2 separate regions of the Homo sapiens genome follow, and region 1 is linked to region 2. Evidence: fine-mapped expression QTL. Tissue or cell type: cerebellar hemisphere. Region 2 holds a variant in brackets; the other region holds the start of a gene. All regions are shown on one strand. Distances are from middle to middle.

Region 1 (8,185 bases), 60 kb before region 2:
TATATCCAGGAGCCAAGACTCAAATTTTAAATAACTTTTTGACAATGTCATGTAGTAAACCTGACTTCTACTCATTCAATCCCATTATTTCAGCTAGGTCAAAATAAAAATATGCTACTTTCTTTTTTACCTATGAGCTAAAAAGCAAAGTAGCCATAGATTTACAAGTAGAAGGAAATTTTAAAGATCATCCCTCATTTCACACAAAATCACAGCTATGGGGTAATCTAAAATACTATTTTAAAATACCTTCAGAAAACAAAATTCCATATCCTTAACACAATATACCTTCTAAAAATACTTCTTTGCTCTCAGAGAATAGTTACAGTTAAATACATTAAGTGATGTAAACTAAAAACAGTTTTCAAAACATCTTGCTTTTTCCTACCTCCCTAGCTTTACACATGCAGCTCCATCTGGGTGAACACTTCTCTGCAACATGCCTAACATTCCTATTTCCTATGGCCTGGATTTCAAGGATTCTCAACCAGAGGCAGTACCACTCCCCTAGGGAGTGTTTTGAAAAGCTTGGAGGGTTTCGTTGTTGTTTGATTGGTTGGTTGGTTGGTCTTGGTTATTACAGTAACTAGAGGTGCTACTGTCATTAAGGATTTCAGGGGCTAAAGACACTTAATCTGCAATGTGGGATTATCCTGCCCAAAATGTTAATAGCACCCTTGCTAAGGAACACTGTTACCCAGCCAAAACCAACAAATTCCTCAGGAATCAACCTAGGTGCCACCTCCTTTGGGAATTCTACTATAATTCATATAATTTGATGCAGATACTCCTCTTAGCTGTCCCTATAATAAAACTATGCCGCCTCTCCCATCATTACACTTACCACAGTGTAATGTAATTAACTGTTTGCCATGTCCATCAGAAAGAAATTACAATTTTTCCTGCACAACAAAATGAGTAAAATTCTAAATGTTTAATTAAGTATACTTACCAGCGTGAGCAACCCCACATGCTTTTTTGACTGGATCTGCAAAAACTATCGGTATACAGTCTGCACCAAGAGCTGCTATTGTGACTCCTCTCTGATTTGTGGTTATTCCATCATAAGAGTCAGGCTCCTTTCTTCCCATAATCCAGATGTCATTGGAATGATGAGTCTAATACCAAAAATGTGCAACAAAAATGTTTTGGAAATAGTATTTCTTATACCATAAGCTTTCTCGAAGGTACTCATTGTAGTATAAAATTATATAACCAGTTTAAGATTACTAGCATTCATTAAATATATCACTTTTATATATGGGAAAACACAAAATTTACTTATAATTTAACTATTTAAGATTTTAGATTATAATCTCTGATAGTTTATGCAAAGAAAAGCAGAGTTTAACATTATAAAATTCAATATAGTGAATAATGAACATCTTTCCATAAAGATAGGTATATCATTTCTTATAGCACTTTCTACAAAATGAAAATTTTTCTTGTAAAGGAAAGTTAATTAACAAATCAATGATACTTTTACTTTTCCAAGACTCAAGTAAAGCTAGAATTCTGTAAGGAACAAGACATTATCTCATCAACTATGACCCTAGTTCCTCCTGGAGTAGATTTATAAAATAATGGCCTTTCTCTACCACCATTCAGTTCCCTTTCTTCTAAATCAAAAAGAGCAGTGGTAGTATACTCTCTGAGAATTAACTGTACTTTTAGAATTGAGGACTCCAGATGAAATATACAGTAGGCTCTTGAATAATGTCATTTTATTCCACATCATTTCATTATAATGTTAATGAAAAAAATTGATTACCCACCCGGTCACTGACTGTGTGAGGTTTGCACCTTCTCCTCACGTCCACATGGGTTTTCTCTGGGTACTCCAGCTTCCTCCCACATCCCAAAGAAGTGCATGTTAGATGAATTGGGGTGTCTACATGGTCCCAGCATGAGTACGTGTGTGTGTGTGTAAGGGCACCCTGCAATGGAATGGTGTCCTGTCGAGGGTGGGTTGTGGCCTTGCATCCTGATCTGCCAGAATAGACTCCAGCTACCTAAAGCCCTGAACCGAAATAATTTGGTAGTTATCTTATTTGTCTTTCTTACTGTTTTGTAAATATATGTCTAGCTCACATTTATTTCAATGTTTAATACTAGGAATGTGTTGGTCTTTATTTAGAAGTTTGGTGATGTTTTTGTGACAAGAAATATGCCTTAGAAACTTTATTCTTATTTATATCAATTAGCCTATGGTAAAATTGGTTTTATTATGTCGTTTCACTTAAAGTCACAATTTCTAAGAACCTATCAACATTAAAGGATGACTTACTATATGTGTGTGTGCATATATATATATATATATATATCTGCACGTGTGTGTGTGTGTGTATAAAATAGAACTTATCTTTAGGCTATGGTGTATAAATCTAAGAAAGACAACCACAGCATTATTCTAAAACTTTAGATAAAAAAGCAGATACAAAAGTTAAATAGCTTAAAGTCCATGTAGTTACTAGCAAAGTAAAAAATATACTTTAGATCTTTCAAAATATAAAGCAAAATTTTACCTTTATTCGGTAAAATTTCTCCACATTAAATCCTGCAGCATTCGCCAACCTACGCAGATTTTCTTGAACCACTACCTTGGGATCTCTCCGTTTGGAACTACTGAAGAGATTGAATGAGCTAAGAGTTGGTATATAAGATATCCCACCTGTTCTTGTAGTAAATCCATGTATGAAAATATCTGTTGAAGATAAGCAGTGAAGATTTAAAAGATGCTATTCAAAATACCAGTCTCTCAATTAGACCTTCCCTGATCACTGCTACCTGCCCTTGTTATTTGGCTTCTAATTTCTATGGCATTTTGTACCTCCATATGTTCTTATGGCATTCTGCTTTGTGTTTGTTTTACACTCCCTATGAGATTGTTGCTCTTCAAAAGGTATATTGTGTCTCATCTGGCTTTGTTATATCTAATAGCATATAGCTCACAGAAAATACTGTTTAACCAAGAAGTAAGATTGATTGTTTTAAATTTTACTCTTCTATGAAGGTGCCAATGATTTGAAATTTCAGAATTTCTAAATAGAAGATTTTCAGTGTCATAAATCTCATTGCAAAGGAGGGCTAGATTATTTGTCTCATCATCAAATTTTTGTAAAGCAAATTTATTTATTTGGGGTGGCTTTGAAGGCTTTATCCCTTGACACCCCTGATACTACAGGGCCAAACATGACACCTCTGTGTTGCCACTGATGCTAATGAGTAATCAGCCCACAACAGTCAACAAAAGAAAGGAGGAAAAAAAGAGGTGAACTACCTCTGAAGAAAGACTAGTTTTCCATGTACAAAGTAAAAACAACAGTTAGTGGTTAATATACCTGGGATCAAAGAAGAAGTGATAATAGTTAATTTTCCTCTCAGTGCTGGCAGACTTCTCAAAAATGTTTCTATTTCATTCTGAATTCCTCTTAGTTCTTGAGCTGTGATTACGTTTATTTCAATGGACTGTTTAAAAAGCCCTCCCCTAAAAGTCACTTGCAAATCTTCAAATTCAAAATTGTAAACATCAGTGAAGAGTTGATCAATAAAAGCTTTCATTAATGTCTTCCTGTGCCTGGGTACAATTACCTTAATGCTGCTCAGATTTTTTTCATCAATTTTCTGTTTAATGGTATACAAAGTGGCAGCCATGCTGGGACAGCTAACAATCTCAAATTCTTCCAAGAGAGCTGATAATCCATTGCTTGTTTCTATTTCACAATTATCTTGTTCTCCATCCCTTTCATAGCTGATGTTACTGCAACACATTATACAGAGAAACTTGGCCTTGGCAGCATGGTGGTATTGGACAGCATTCAAAGTCTTCAGTAATGTCTGATGGCAGTTTTTTTGAGAGTTCAATTTCAAACCAAAAAGATCAATCAAAACAGCTTCTGCCATCCTTGAAAGAATACTTTTATGCCAAATAAATCACCTGCAAATAAAAATTAGTGTAAGAATATAAGATTATATAAATCTTATAGTTACAACAGAAATTTGTGGTAGATTAAAAACGAAGTAATTACACTGATTTTAAAATGTAACTAAAATAGTAAATCTAGGCCCCTCCCAGAAAAGCCAGTCTACTCTGTCACAACAGAACCATGACAGTGAAAGCAAAGCCATCTTTTAATTCGTTTTGTGAAAATGCTGGTACATCTTTCCAGCAGCACGACAGTTCCTCTGTTTTGTTTACACAGAACTTTTGAGTAAGGAATTACTTGTGGAGTTTAGACAAAGTCCTGTTTTTAAATTGCAGAGTGTCAACCTGTGTGATATATCATTAGTCCTGACATGATTGTCATATTAGGTCTCATCCTTTCATATGCGGGGGCTTAAGTTTACGAAGCTAAATGGAGCTGCACGCGAAATTCGCGTTTTAAGATGATAAAAGCTGAGATGGCTAATAGAGTTCCCTTCAGGATTTGCGCAGTACTCCACACTTAGCAATGACCACAAAAGCTATAGTGATTTGGATGAGACAGGCTTCCTCTCAACTTTCTTAATTCATTCTCCCCGTGCAGCTTTGCTCACCTCCAGCCCAGCCCTCCCACCCCAACCTGCGGGGCTCCGGTGACCCCCTTTGGTGACGCCCTTTGCCCCAAGAAGGTTTTCTCCTGCCGCTTCCCCTAACCTTTGCTCCCCATCTCTCGGGGCTCCCTCTGAGGTTCATTTAGCCAGTTTTGAGTGGGTGACCGTCCCCCCTTCCCTGTTCATTGTGAATTTCCGCCCAACGTGTGTCGCCGCCAGGTCCCTGTTCCTCCTACCCGCCTCGGCTCACGGGGCGCAGGCTGTGGCTCTGCACCTGCCCGGGCACCTCCACCGGCGGCTCACAGCCCATTCGGGACTTCCTGTCGGACAACGCACACCAGAGGCGATTCGGTCCTCGCCTTCCCGCTCTTCACCTTCGGTTGCACACCGGTCTACGGCGACCTCTGTGACAATTTGCCGCCCCGTCCCTCGTCCTGAGCCTCAACGAAATTGGGCAGCCGCGAGCGGGTCAGCTGGAGTCGTAAGCTCGGCCCAGCGCGACGACACCCGCCCCGCCTCACCTCGCCCACCTCGCCCACCTCGCCCCGCCTCGCCTCGCCCCGCCTCGCCCCGCCTCACCTCGCCCCCCTCGCCCACCTCGCCCCGCCTCACCTCACCTACCTCGCCGCGGCCGCACAGATTCCCCGCCTGATACCGTCCCAGGATCCCAGGGGAAACCTGACGGCCAGGTTCCCTCGTGCCAGCTGCCGGGAGGCGGGAGGGAGGTAGGCCAGGGCCGCCTGGCGTGCTTGGTGCGAACGCGGCGGGCCCAGCGCGAGAGCTGGGGAATCCCGGGATGAGCCAAGCGCCGCGAGCCCGCTGCTGCCTCAGCAGTTCCGGGTCTGGGCGGTCCGCGGAGTCGGCATCCCGCAGCCCCGGCGGCGTTAGAGGAACAGGAACCAGAGCCGCGCGAGGGCTCTCGCCCGGGAGCCAGGCGGGTTAGCGGGCAGGAGTGGGCAGGCCGAGTCCGGAAAGGGTCGCGAGGAGGCAGCTAGGGGCCCCTTGAGGAGGGATAGGGCGGCGGAACGACGGGCCCTGGGAGCGGGCGCAGGGCGGCAGGAGCTGCAGGTCTCCAGAGGGCACGGGGCGGGGAACTAGGGGCCCGGTTAGAAAGCCGGGCGGCGGGAACGGCGGGCACCGTGAGGGGGCGGCGGGAATGGTGGGTCGCGTGAGGCCGGGCTGCTGGAGCGACCTCGGGACTAAACCGCAGTCTCCCTTCTGCTAATGGAAGCCGTTTCCCAAGCGAGCTGAAGTCCGCGTTTCCGGTCTCTGAGGGACGCCTCGCTGACCCAGCAGTGTGGTCAGGACGCTGGGTTTCCTCACCGCAGCCCAGGGCCAGTCCCTTGTCATGCTAGCTCTTGGCAGCTTTTCCCATGCAGGGCTCAAGTCAGGGGCCCCCTCGAGATGTTTTAGTGTTTTTTTGTTGTTCATTTGTTTCCAGAAACAAGCTGTTGTCTCTCCTCCAATGTCTTTGTGCTGATTCTTGCTGACCAACACTCTTCCGAGCGCCTTCACTTGTGTTGACAACACGGATGTCCTCTATGGCCTTTTAAAATATGTGCCACTAGCAGGACTTAAGTAAAAGGCGCTCATCCCTAAAATCATGATAAAGGTGCAGTTTAGCATCCCTGATCTGTCCTCCAAGAATATAACGTTCATTTATTTGAAAATAGCAGTTAGGACATGGAAGGCCAGTGTATGGTAAAGGGAAAAAATATCCGACCTTCCAAGAGTAAGAGAAATGGTGCTTCCTGGGGAACTGGTTATGATGGAAGGAGAGGTCCCTTTTATCTTCATTGTTGCTCATTTGGTAGGCGCTAAAGAACCTTTGTCTCATAATCTCAGATAGCTGGGAATTTGGAAGAGCCCTCTGGGGTAGGCATGTTCTTGTGCTTGACTAGAGACTGGGAGCACTAACCCAGAATGGAAACCCACCCTTCAATAACCCTAGCACCAGTTATGTCAAAATTCATGTTTTCTTTGGTCATTTGTTAAAGAGCCCCGAGCGGTAGATGGTACACCCAATCAGAAGGTGCACTCTGCCCTGAGTTTGTTTATGTTAAATATCATTAGATTGGTGCAAAGGTAATTGCGGTTTTTGCCATTGACAAAGACCACAATTACTTTTGCACCAGCTTAATACCTCAAGCAAAACAGAGGTCTTTTAGTTACAAAGGTTTTAAACATTTATCTCTGTTTTTACAATGGTGGGATTCGTATTCTTTCATGCAAAAGTAGTGGCAGTAAAAAAAAAATGAAAAAGAAAATATTTCAAAAGAATGAAGTTGTCAGGGAAGAGAGTTTGTTATATTGTATTTGCATACCATTTCCTTTCACCATCTGGTCCTAGTGTCATGTCCTAACACTTCCTCATCCCATTTTCACTCTATCCTACTCCAGTGGTTCTCAGTCTTGGCTGCAAATCAGAACTGCAAGTGCAACTGAAAAAAAAAATAATTAATGTAGAGACTCTATCCCAAATATACATTGAATCAGAATCTCTAGGAGTTAGGCCTGAGCATGTTTTGCTTTGCTTTTTTGTTTTGTTTTAACCTCTATGTATGAGTTAGATGCATAATTAAGTTTGAAAAAATAAAAACACCCTATTCCCAAGCCACTCAAATAAAAGCTGTTCTTTGGAGGCCACATGATTTCATTCTTTACATTTGCAGTTCCTCTACTTAGCAAAATACCCTCCTTTTTATATGCCTAACTGCTACTTTTTGTTCAAGGCTCTTCAAGCTCAAACATAATCTTCCCTGAATCCCCATCCCTCATCAAGCAAAATTAATAGCTTCTTTACATTTTGTTCATATGAAGAAGCCCTCTCATAGATGTAGTCTGGGCCCCTAGCCAAGAAATAAGTGGAAAAAATGGTTAAATATTGAATTGTACACTTTATAAGGATGTACTTTGTGGTATGTAAATTATATCTAAAAAAGGCTTTTTTTATAAGAAAAAAGGTCAGTTAAACCACAGAATCATGAAAAAATATAACAAATACCTTAAACTGTATTCTAACCTAAAACAACTGTGTGTTCATTTGCCCATCTATTGAGAAGATCCAAGACCTTTTCTTTGCATGTAGTCTACTGATTGGAATTCTGCATACTATCTCTTGCATAAACCGTACCCATAAACCATCAGCTAAGATTTCCCAAGATTTTGTTCTTTTAAGGGGAAAATAACTTAAAGGCACCTGTGAAGCAATCTGAGGGCAGATTTATACTTTGTAATTTTTTTCTTTTTTGAGATGAAGTCTCGCTCTGTCGCCAGGCTGTAGTACAGTGGTGCGATCTCGGCTCACTGCAGCCTCCACAGGGTTCAAGTGATTCTCCTGCCTTAGCCTCCCAAGTAGCTAGGATTACAGGCGTGCACCACCACGCCCGGCTAATTTTTGTATTTTTAGTAGAGACGGGGTTTCACCATGTTGGCCAGGATGGTCTCGAACTCCTGACCTCTCTTGATCTGCCTGCCTCAGCCTCCCAAAGTGCTGGGATTACAGGCATGAGCCACCGCTATATTTTATAATCTTTTACAGTTAATCTCACATACTTTTGTTGGGTCTTTCCAAAATATTAAACATAGATTTTTAAAGAAACAACAATTTCCACACTATTTCATTGGTTTATACAATATTAAGTTACGAAAG
Region 2 (8,185 bases):
AATTTATTTTCCTTTGAGTATATACCCAGTAATGGGACTGCTGGGTTGAATGGTAGTTCTATTTTTGGTTTTTTGAGAAACCTTCAAATTGCTTTCCACAGTGGCTGAACTAATTTACATGCCCACCAACAATGTATAAGCATTGTCTTTTCTCTGCAGCCTCACCAGCATCTGTTGTTTTCGACTTTTTAACAATAGCCATTCTGACTAGTATGAGATGGTATCTCATTGTGGGTTTGATTTGCATTTCTCTGATGATTAGTAATGCTGACCATTTTTTCATATGTTTGTTGGCCACTTGTATATCTTCTTTCCAGAAGCATCTGTTCATGTCCTTTGCCCACTTTTTAATGGGGTTGATTTTTTCTTGTTGATTTGTTTAAGTTCCTTAAAGATTCTGAATATTAGACCTTTGTCAGCTGCATAGTTTGCAAATATTTTCTCCCATTCTGTAGATTGTTTACTCTGTTGATAGTTCTTTTGCTGTGCAGAAGGTCTTTAGTTTAATTAAGGCCAAATTATCAATTTTTGTTTTTGTTACAATTGCTTTTGAAGACTTAGTCATAAACTCTTTGCCTAGGCTGATGTCCACAAAAGTATTTTTTAGGTTTTGTTCTAGGATTTTATAGTTTGAGGTCTTACATTTAAGTTTTTAATCCATCTTGAGTTAATTTCTGTATGTAGTGAAAGGTAGGAGTTCCGTTTCTATCACAACTTATGTGGCATAAGTGCGAGTCCTTTCACCATGCTAGTTACATCCCTTTGCATATACTCTTCCTTCACATTGTCCTATGAAAGTTGAAGAAAACAAAAAGATACTAAAGATATAGTCTTATTAGTTGCTTATAGAAGAGGTCTATTTCATCCCATATTTGGGACTCAGGTTTCTACTAATGCAACCTCAGTTTACATGTGCTTTTCATGGTAGTCATAGCATATTGTTCACTCATATTGAACTGACTCCTCCAATCTGAGAGATTCCGTTGGCATGAAAAAGGGTTAAACTCCTTGCTAAAACATGAAATCATTATTTATTGTCATTTAATACATTTTTTGGAAGGCAAAGCGAGATGACCCAATAGAAGCCTGCACCACTCATTCCCCAAGCAGGAGCATCAAATTCTAACTATACTCAAGAGCACCATCATCACAAGAACCCAAATCAGGTGAGCAATCACAGTACCTAGTTTCAACTCCATATTTCTGAAAGAGGCTAGAAGAGATAGTCTTGAAGAGCCAAACTACCACTCCTCCATACCCCAGCAGTGACTGGGGGCTCAGAGAGAGAATCTGTGCACTTGAGGGAGGGACAACTGGGGGACTTTACACTGAACTCAGTGCTGCCCTGGGAGTAGAGAATAAAGCTGTGCTGGGCTCACCTAGCGCCCACGCATGGAGGAGGCTTTCAGAGCAGACCTAGCCAGAGGGGATTCACCCATCCCAGTGATGGAAACTTGAGTTTCTCTGAAGGCCTTGCCACTGTGGGCCATAAGTGCTCTGATGTCCTAGGTAAACTTGAAGAGTAATCTAGGGCACAAGGATTGCAATTCCTAGGCAACGCCTAGTGCTGGGCTGGCCTTAGATCCTGGGAACTTGTCAGGTAAATGGCCTAGAGCAATACCAGACAGCGAGGCCAAGGGAGTGCTCGCACAACTCCTGCCTCAACCCCAGGCAGTGCAGCTCACAGAGATGAAAGTGACTTCTTCCTTCTGCTTGAGGAAAGGAGAGCAAAGAGTAAAGAGGACGTTGTCTTGAATCTTGGATACCAGCCCAGCCACAGTGAGACAGGACATCAGGCAGAGTCATGAGGCCCCTCTTTCCAAGCCCTAGCTAGTGGATTACATTTCTAGACACACCCTGGGCCAGAATGAAACCTGCTGCCTTGAAGGGAAGGACCCAGTCCTGGTAGGATTCATCACCTGCTGACTAAGGAGTCCTTAGGCCCTGGATAACAAACAGCAGTACCCAGGTAGTACACCATGGGCCTTGGGCTCTGAGATGTGTTGGCTTTAGGTGTGATTTAGGACATTCTCAGCTGTGGTGACTACAGCAAAAGACTCCTTCTGTTTGAGAAAAGCAGAGAGAGAAGTAAAGGGGACTTTGTCTTGCACCTTAGGCACCGGCTTGGCCACTGGGGAGTAGAGCACCAGCAGACCCTTGGGGTCCCCGGTTCCAGGCCTAGGCTCTTGGATGGCCATTTCTGGACCTGCCTTATAAAAGAAGGGGAGCCCACCACTCTGAAGGGTGAGTCTCAGGCCTGGAAGCATTCATCACAAGCTGACTGAAGAGCCCTTAGGCTCTAAGTGAACATCAGCAGTGCCCTGGCAGAACCCCACCATGGGCTGGTGGTGGTGGCAGCCACAGGGAGAGGCTCCTCTCTCTGTGAAAAGGAGGGAGAAGAGTGGGAAAGGCTTTGTATTGTGGTTTGAGTGCCAGCTTAGCCACAGTAGAATAGAACATCAGGTAAATTTCTAAGGTTTTTGACTCTAATCCCTGGCTCCCAGACAGCATCTTTGGACCCAACTGGGGCCTGGGGGAACTTACCACCCTTAAAGAAGGGACACAAACTTGGCTGGCTTCGCCACCTGCTAATCATAGAGCCCTAGGGCCTTGAGTGATCATAGGCGGTAGCCAGGTAGTGATTACAGGGGGCCTTGGGTGAAACCCAGTGCTGTGCTGTTTTCAAGTCTGAATTGGTGCAGTCCCAGTGGTGGTAGCCTGTGTTCCCCACCCCCAGTTTCAGGGAACTCAGCAGACAGAGACAGACTCCATTTGCGGGAAAGTGAGGGAAAAGAACACGAGTCTCTGCTTGGTAATCCAGAGAATTCTTCCAGATCGTATGCAAGACTGCCAAGGCAGTATCTCTATGAGTCTGCAAGAACCACAGCATTATTGGGCTTGGGGCTCAAGTTCCTTCTAACACCTGGAAAGCCTTCCCAAGAAGGAGGGGCACAAACCAGCCCAGACTGCAAAGACAACAATAAATGCCTAACTCTTCAGTGACCAGACACTGACGAACATCTACGAGCATCAAGACCATCCAGGAAAACTTGAGCTCACCAAAGAAACTAAATAAGGCACCAGGGACCAATCCTGGAGAAACAGAGATATGTGTCCTTTCAGACAGAAAACTCAAAATAGCTGTGTTGAGGAAACTTATGAGAAATTCAAGATAACACAGAGAGGGAATTCAGAATTCTATCAGATGAATTTAACAAGGAGATTGAAATTATTTAAAAGAATCAAGAAGAAATTCTAGAGTTGAAAAATGCAAGTGACACACTGAAGAATGCATCAGAGCCTCTTAATATCAGAATTTAGGCAGAAGAAATAATTCGTGAGCTTGAAGATGAGGTATTTGAAAATACACAGTCAGAGGAGACAAAAGAAAAAAGAATAAGAAAGAATGAAGAACACTTAAAAGATCTACAAAATAGCCTCAAAAGGGCAAATCTAAGAGTTATTGGCCTTAAAAAGAAGGTAAAGAGATGGGGTAGAGAGTTTATTCAAAGGGATAAGAGCAGAGAACTTATCAAATCTAGAGAAAGGGCCAGGCCTAGTGGCTTACGCCTATAATTCCAGCACTTTGGAAGGCTGAGCCAGGCAGATCACTTGAGGTCAGGAGTTCAAGACCAGCCTGGCCAACATGTTGAAACCCCATCTTTACTAAAAATACAAAAATTACCTAGACATTGTGGCAGACGCCTGTAATCCCAGCTACTCGGGAGGCTGAGGCAGGAGAACAGCTTAAACTTGGGAGGTGGAGGTTGCAGTGAGCCAAGATTGTGCCACTGCACTCCAGTCTGCACTACAAGAACAAAACTCTGTCTCAGAAAATAAAAATGTTTTAAAAACCCCTACATAAAGATATCAATACTCAAGTCCAAGAAGGATATTGAGCAGCGAGTAGATTTAACCCAAAGAAGACTATCTCAAGGAATTTAATAATCAAACTCCGAAACTCCCAAAGGTCAAGGATAAAGAAAAAAATCCTAAAACACATTTTTCTTACTGGCTTATCCTGGACCTTATGGAATAGCATATGGAATAAGACATTTGAGAATAAAATTTGGTTTAGGATAGCACTATTATAAGTTGATATCAAACATTGTTCTAAATAGAAAAATACTTTTCAAGAATATTCTCAATAGCATGTGTGTTTTCTCTACAGCAATTTTTAAAAGAACGCATACCCTTCAAAATGTGTAATTATAAAAGCTAACGTGTACTGGACCTTTACTGTGAGCCACAGCAACACTATAAAGTGGATCACAAATATTCTCATTTTAGAGATGAGAAACTGATTTATTTCCCGTGATTCTTATATGAAGAAAAATTCTGCTTCATCAGCTCTTTGATTAACTGGAAACATGGTTCATAGAAGAGAGGCAGGATTGATACTCGATTCTTTCATTTTAGTTTTCAATTTTTAGAATAAGAAGCCAGTGTTCTAGCCATATTCAAAGGTAATAAGCCAGATTCCCTTTTCAAAGCATTATAATTAACTCGTAGATTTTTATATATTTGATGTTGTAATCAGTGACAGTATTATTATTGATGTTCAAATAGCCCTATCTTTGACCAGTGAGAGCTTCTCAAGTTACCTTTAATGTCCTTTC[G/A]GCAAAACCCCAAGTTTTTGTAACTTACTTGCTTAAGGAGTGTCAAGTTGTCTCATACTTACCATCTATATTCCCCGCCTTAGACCTGAAACCTGCTACTTTACCGTGGAGCTCCTGTGTTTTTTTAAATTAGGAAATAGTATTTAGAAACCACAAGCTCAGCATTAAGGGTGTTCATCAAAACTAGGTTGTCACTATCCCTCAGGCTTTTCTGTGGGTAGAGGTAGAAAACAACAATATTTTTGGACTTATAAGTAAATCATCAGTTTCTACTGTATTTTTGACAATAGTTTGGACTGATTTTTAAAAACCCATCAGTTTATACTATGTTTTTCAAGTCAAAGATTACATAGAGTTTTCCTTAACACCTTCACTTTTATAGATGCACTTTTTTCTCCTGTGCTGAAAATTTTAGATCCTAAATCACATTAATACAAATATTTATTGTTTCAAAATAATAATAACAATTTTATTGACAATAAAAAAAACTTCAGGTTTTTGGGTCTTTTTGTCCTTATGATATTCTACTGGCAACGAACAGACAAAATATGTATTTTGTTTCTCTTTTTCATATTTTTAGAAATCACATTTTTATATTTTTAGAAATCACATTTTAAAATCTTTATTTCATCTTATTTTTTAATTATGTGAGATATTTACATGTTTACAAATTAAAATTATAAAATAAGGTAACTTTAGGGAGGTCTGGATTCCATTTCTGCTCTCTTCTTATTTTCCTTATCCCTCTATGGCATACAATTTTTATTTTTTTGATTCATTATTTCATTGTTTCATTTTAAATATAAGAAGTACTGTATTTATCCCTTTATGAGACAAAAAGTAGCGTAGTATAGGCTGTTTAAACTTTGTTGGCTTTGTTGCTTATTTTTACTAAATATACTGGACATATCTCCACAGTGATACATAGAGGTCTTCCTAATTTCTTTTTCATAATTACATCACTTTTCATTCTAATGGATGTCCATGGATTATTCAACTTTTAATGAATATTTGGGTTGTTTGTAATCTTTTGTTGTTACAAATAGTACTGCAATGGATGCTCCCTCATGAAAACGTCATTTTCTATTTTAGCTAGTATATCTTTGGAATAGACTCCTAGAAGTGGAATTGCTTGCTGAAAACATACATACACACATAATTTTGCTAGATATTACTGAATTCTGTCCCCTGGTGTTTTACCTACCATTTTTATAATCACACCAACAATGTATGAGACTGTTTGCTTCTCCAAAGCCTTACCATCGCTGTACATTGTAAAGCTTTTGGATTTTTCCTACATAACAGGTCAGAGAACTATTATACAAATATATTTTAATATGCTTTTATCTAATAAGTGAGGTTCAACATCGTTCATATGTTTAAAGGCCATAAGCATTTCTTTTTCTGCTAAATATTTTTTTAATTATACTTTAAGTTTTAGGGTACATGTGCACAACATGCAAGTTTGTTACACATGTATACACGTGCCATGAAGGTGTGCTGCACCCATTAACTCGTCATTTACATTAGGTATTTCTCCTAATGCTATCCCTCCCCCCTTCCCCCACCCCACAACAGGCCCCAGTGTGTGATGTTCCCCTTCCTGTGTCCATGTGTTCTCATTGTTCAATTCCCACCTAGGAGTGAGAACATGTGGTATTTGGTTTTTTTGTCCTTGTGATAGTTTGCTGAGAATGATGGTTTCCAGCTTCATCCATGTCCCTACAAAGGACATGAACTCATCATTTTTTATGGCTGCATAGTATTCCATGGTGTATATGTGCCACATTTTCTTAATCCAGTCTATGATTGTTGGACATTTGGCTTGGTTCCAAGTCTTTGCTATTGTGAATAGTGCCGCGATAAACATACGTGTGCATGTGCCTTCATAGCAGCATGTTTTTTAATCCTTTGGGCATATACCCAGTAATGGGATGGCTGGGTCAGATGGTATTTCTAGTTCTAGATCCCTGAGGAATCGCCACACTGACTTCCACAATGGTTGAACTAGTTTACAGTCCCATTAACTGTGTAAAAGTGTTCCTATTTCTCCACATCCTCTCCAGCACCTGTTCATCTCACTGGGGAGTGTCGGACAGTGGGTGCAGGACAGTGGGTGCAGCACACCGATCACAATTAGATGAATGGCTAACTAAAATAACCAATGCAGAGAAGTCCTTAAAAGACCTGATGGAGCTGAAAACCACGGCACGAGAACTACGTGACGAATGCACAAGCCTCAGGAGCCAATTCAATCAACTGGAAGAAAGGGTATCAGTGATGGAAGATCAAATGAATGAAATGAAGCGAGAAGAGAAGTTTAGAGAAAAAAGAATAAAAAGAAACAAACAAAGCCTCCAAGAAATATGGGACTATGTGAAAAGACCAAATCTACGTCTGATTGGTGTACCTGAAAGTGACGGGGAGAATGGAACCAAGTTGGAAAACACTCTGCAGGATATTATCCAGGAGAACTTCCCCAATCAAGCAAGGCAGGCCAACATTCAAATTCAGAAAATACAGAGAACGCCACAAAGATACTCCTCGAGAAGAGCAACTCCAAGACACATAATTGTCAGTTTCACCAAAGTTGAAATGAAGGAAAAAAAGTTAGTTGCCTTTTTACATCATTTACTATGTCCTTTGGTGCACGGAATTTTGACATTTTGATGTAGTTCAACTATTTATCTATTTTTCATTGCCTGTGATTTTACATCATATCTAAGAAATCTTTGCTAAATCCAATGTCATGAAGCTTTCCACCATGTTTTTTCTTCTAGTAATTTTATTGTTTTAGCTCTTATGTTTAGATTTTTGATACTTTTTTTTTCAGTCAGAGTCTGGCTCTATCACCCAGGCTGGAGTGCAGTGGCACAATCTCGGCTCACTGCAACTTCTGCCTCCTGGGTTCAAGTGATTCTCCTGCCTCAGCCTCCCAAGTAGCTGGGATTACAGGCATGTGCCACCATGCCTGGCTAATTTTTGTATTTTTAGTGGAGACAGGGTTTCACCATGTTGGCCAGGCTGGTCTCGAACTCCTGACTTCAGGTGATCCACCCACCTTGGCCTCCCAAAGTACTAGAGTTACAGGTGTGAGCCACCATGCCCAGCCCAATATTTGATACATTTTGAGTTGATTTTTGTATGTGGTATAAAAGCAGGGGCCAACTTCATTCTTTTGCAAGTAGATACCCAGTTTTCCCAGCACCATCTGTGGAAGGCTGTTTCTTCCTCATTGTATGGTCTTGGTCCCCTTGTCAAAAATGTTTTGACCATCTATGTGAGAGCTTGTTTCTTGGCATTCTATTCTATCCTGTAGGTCAATGTGGCTGTCTTCATGCCAGAATAATCTTTCGTTTGTGACAGAAGTAGCAATTATTTTCCCCAGCTTGTCATTTGTCTTTTTACTTTTTTATATTACTTTTGCCATGCAAAAGTTGTTTTATTTTTATGTAGTTGAACTGATCAATTGTTTTACTGTTTTTGTATTTTGTGTCATAGTTAGGAAAGTTTTTCTCATACTCAGCTTATTAAGAAATATGTCAATGTTTCCTTCTAGTACATGA

What was found. PIP is the estimated chance that this variant, and not a neighbour inherited with it, causes the effect.
Region 1: it holds the start of LACC1, and the variant in region 2 is fine-mapped to the expression of LACC1 in cerebellar hemisphere (GTEx, PIP above 0.99). The same link has a PIP of 0.9 or more in whole blood.

The regions. Positions count from the first base shown.
Region 1 is chr13:43,876,704-43,884,888 of GRCh38, reverse strand. It overlaps LACC1 (laccase domain containing 1), which reads right to left and starts at 4,985. Exons shown (of 7, transcript NM_153218.4): 1 at 4,770-4,985; 2 at 3,342-3,937; 3 at 2,526-2,704; 4 at 953-1,118. The coding sequence starts at 3,903. It overlaps CCDC122 (coiled-coil domain containing 122), which reads left to right and starts at 5,149. Exons shown (of 7, transcript NM_144974.5): 1 at 5,149-5,258. RefSeq lists a silencer at 5,098-5,247.
Region 2 is chr13:43,816,887-43,825,071 of GRCh38, reverse strand. It overlaps a transcript of CCDC122 not described here. Among named protein-coding and RNA genes, the nearest start is that of ENOX1, 34 kb to the right of the region's middle. The variant G/A (reference allele first, on the strand shown) is at 4,620.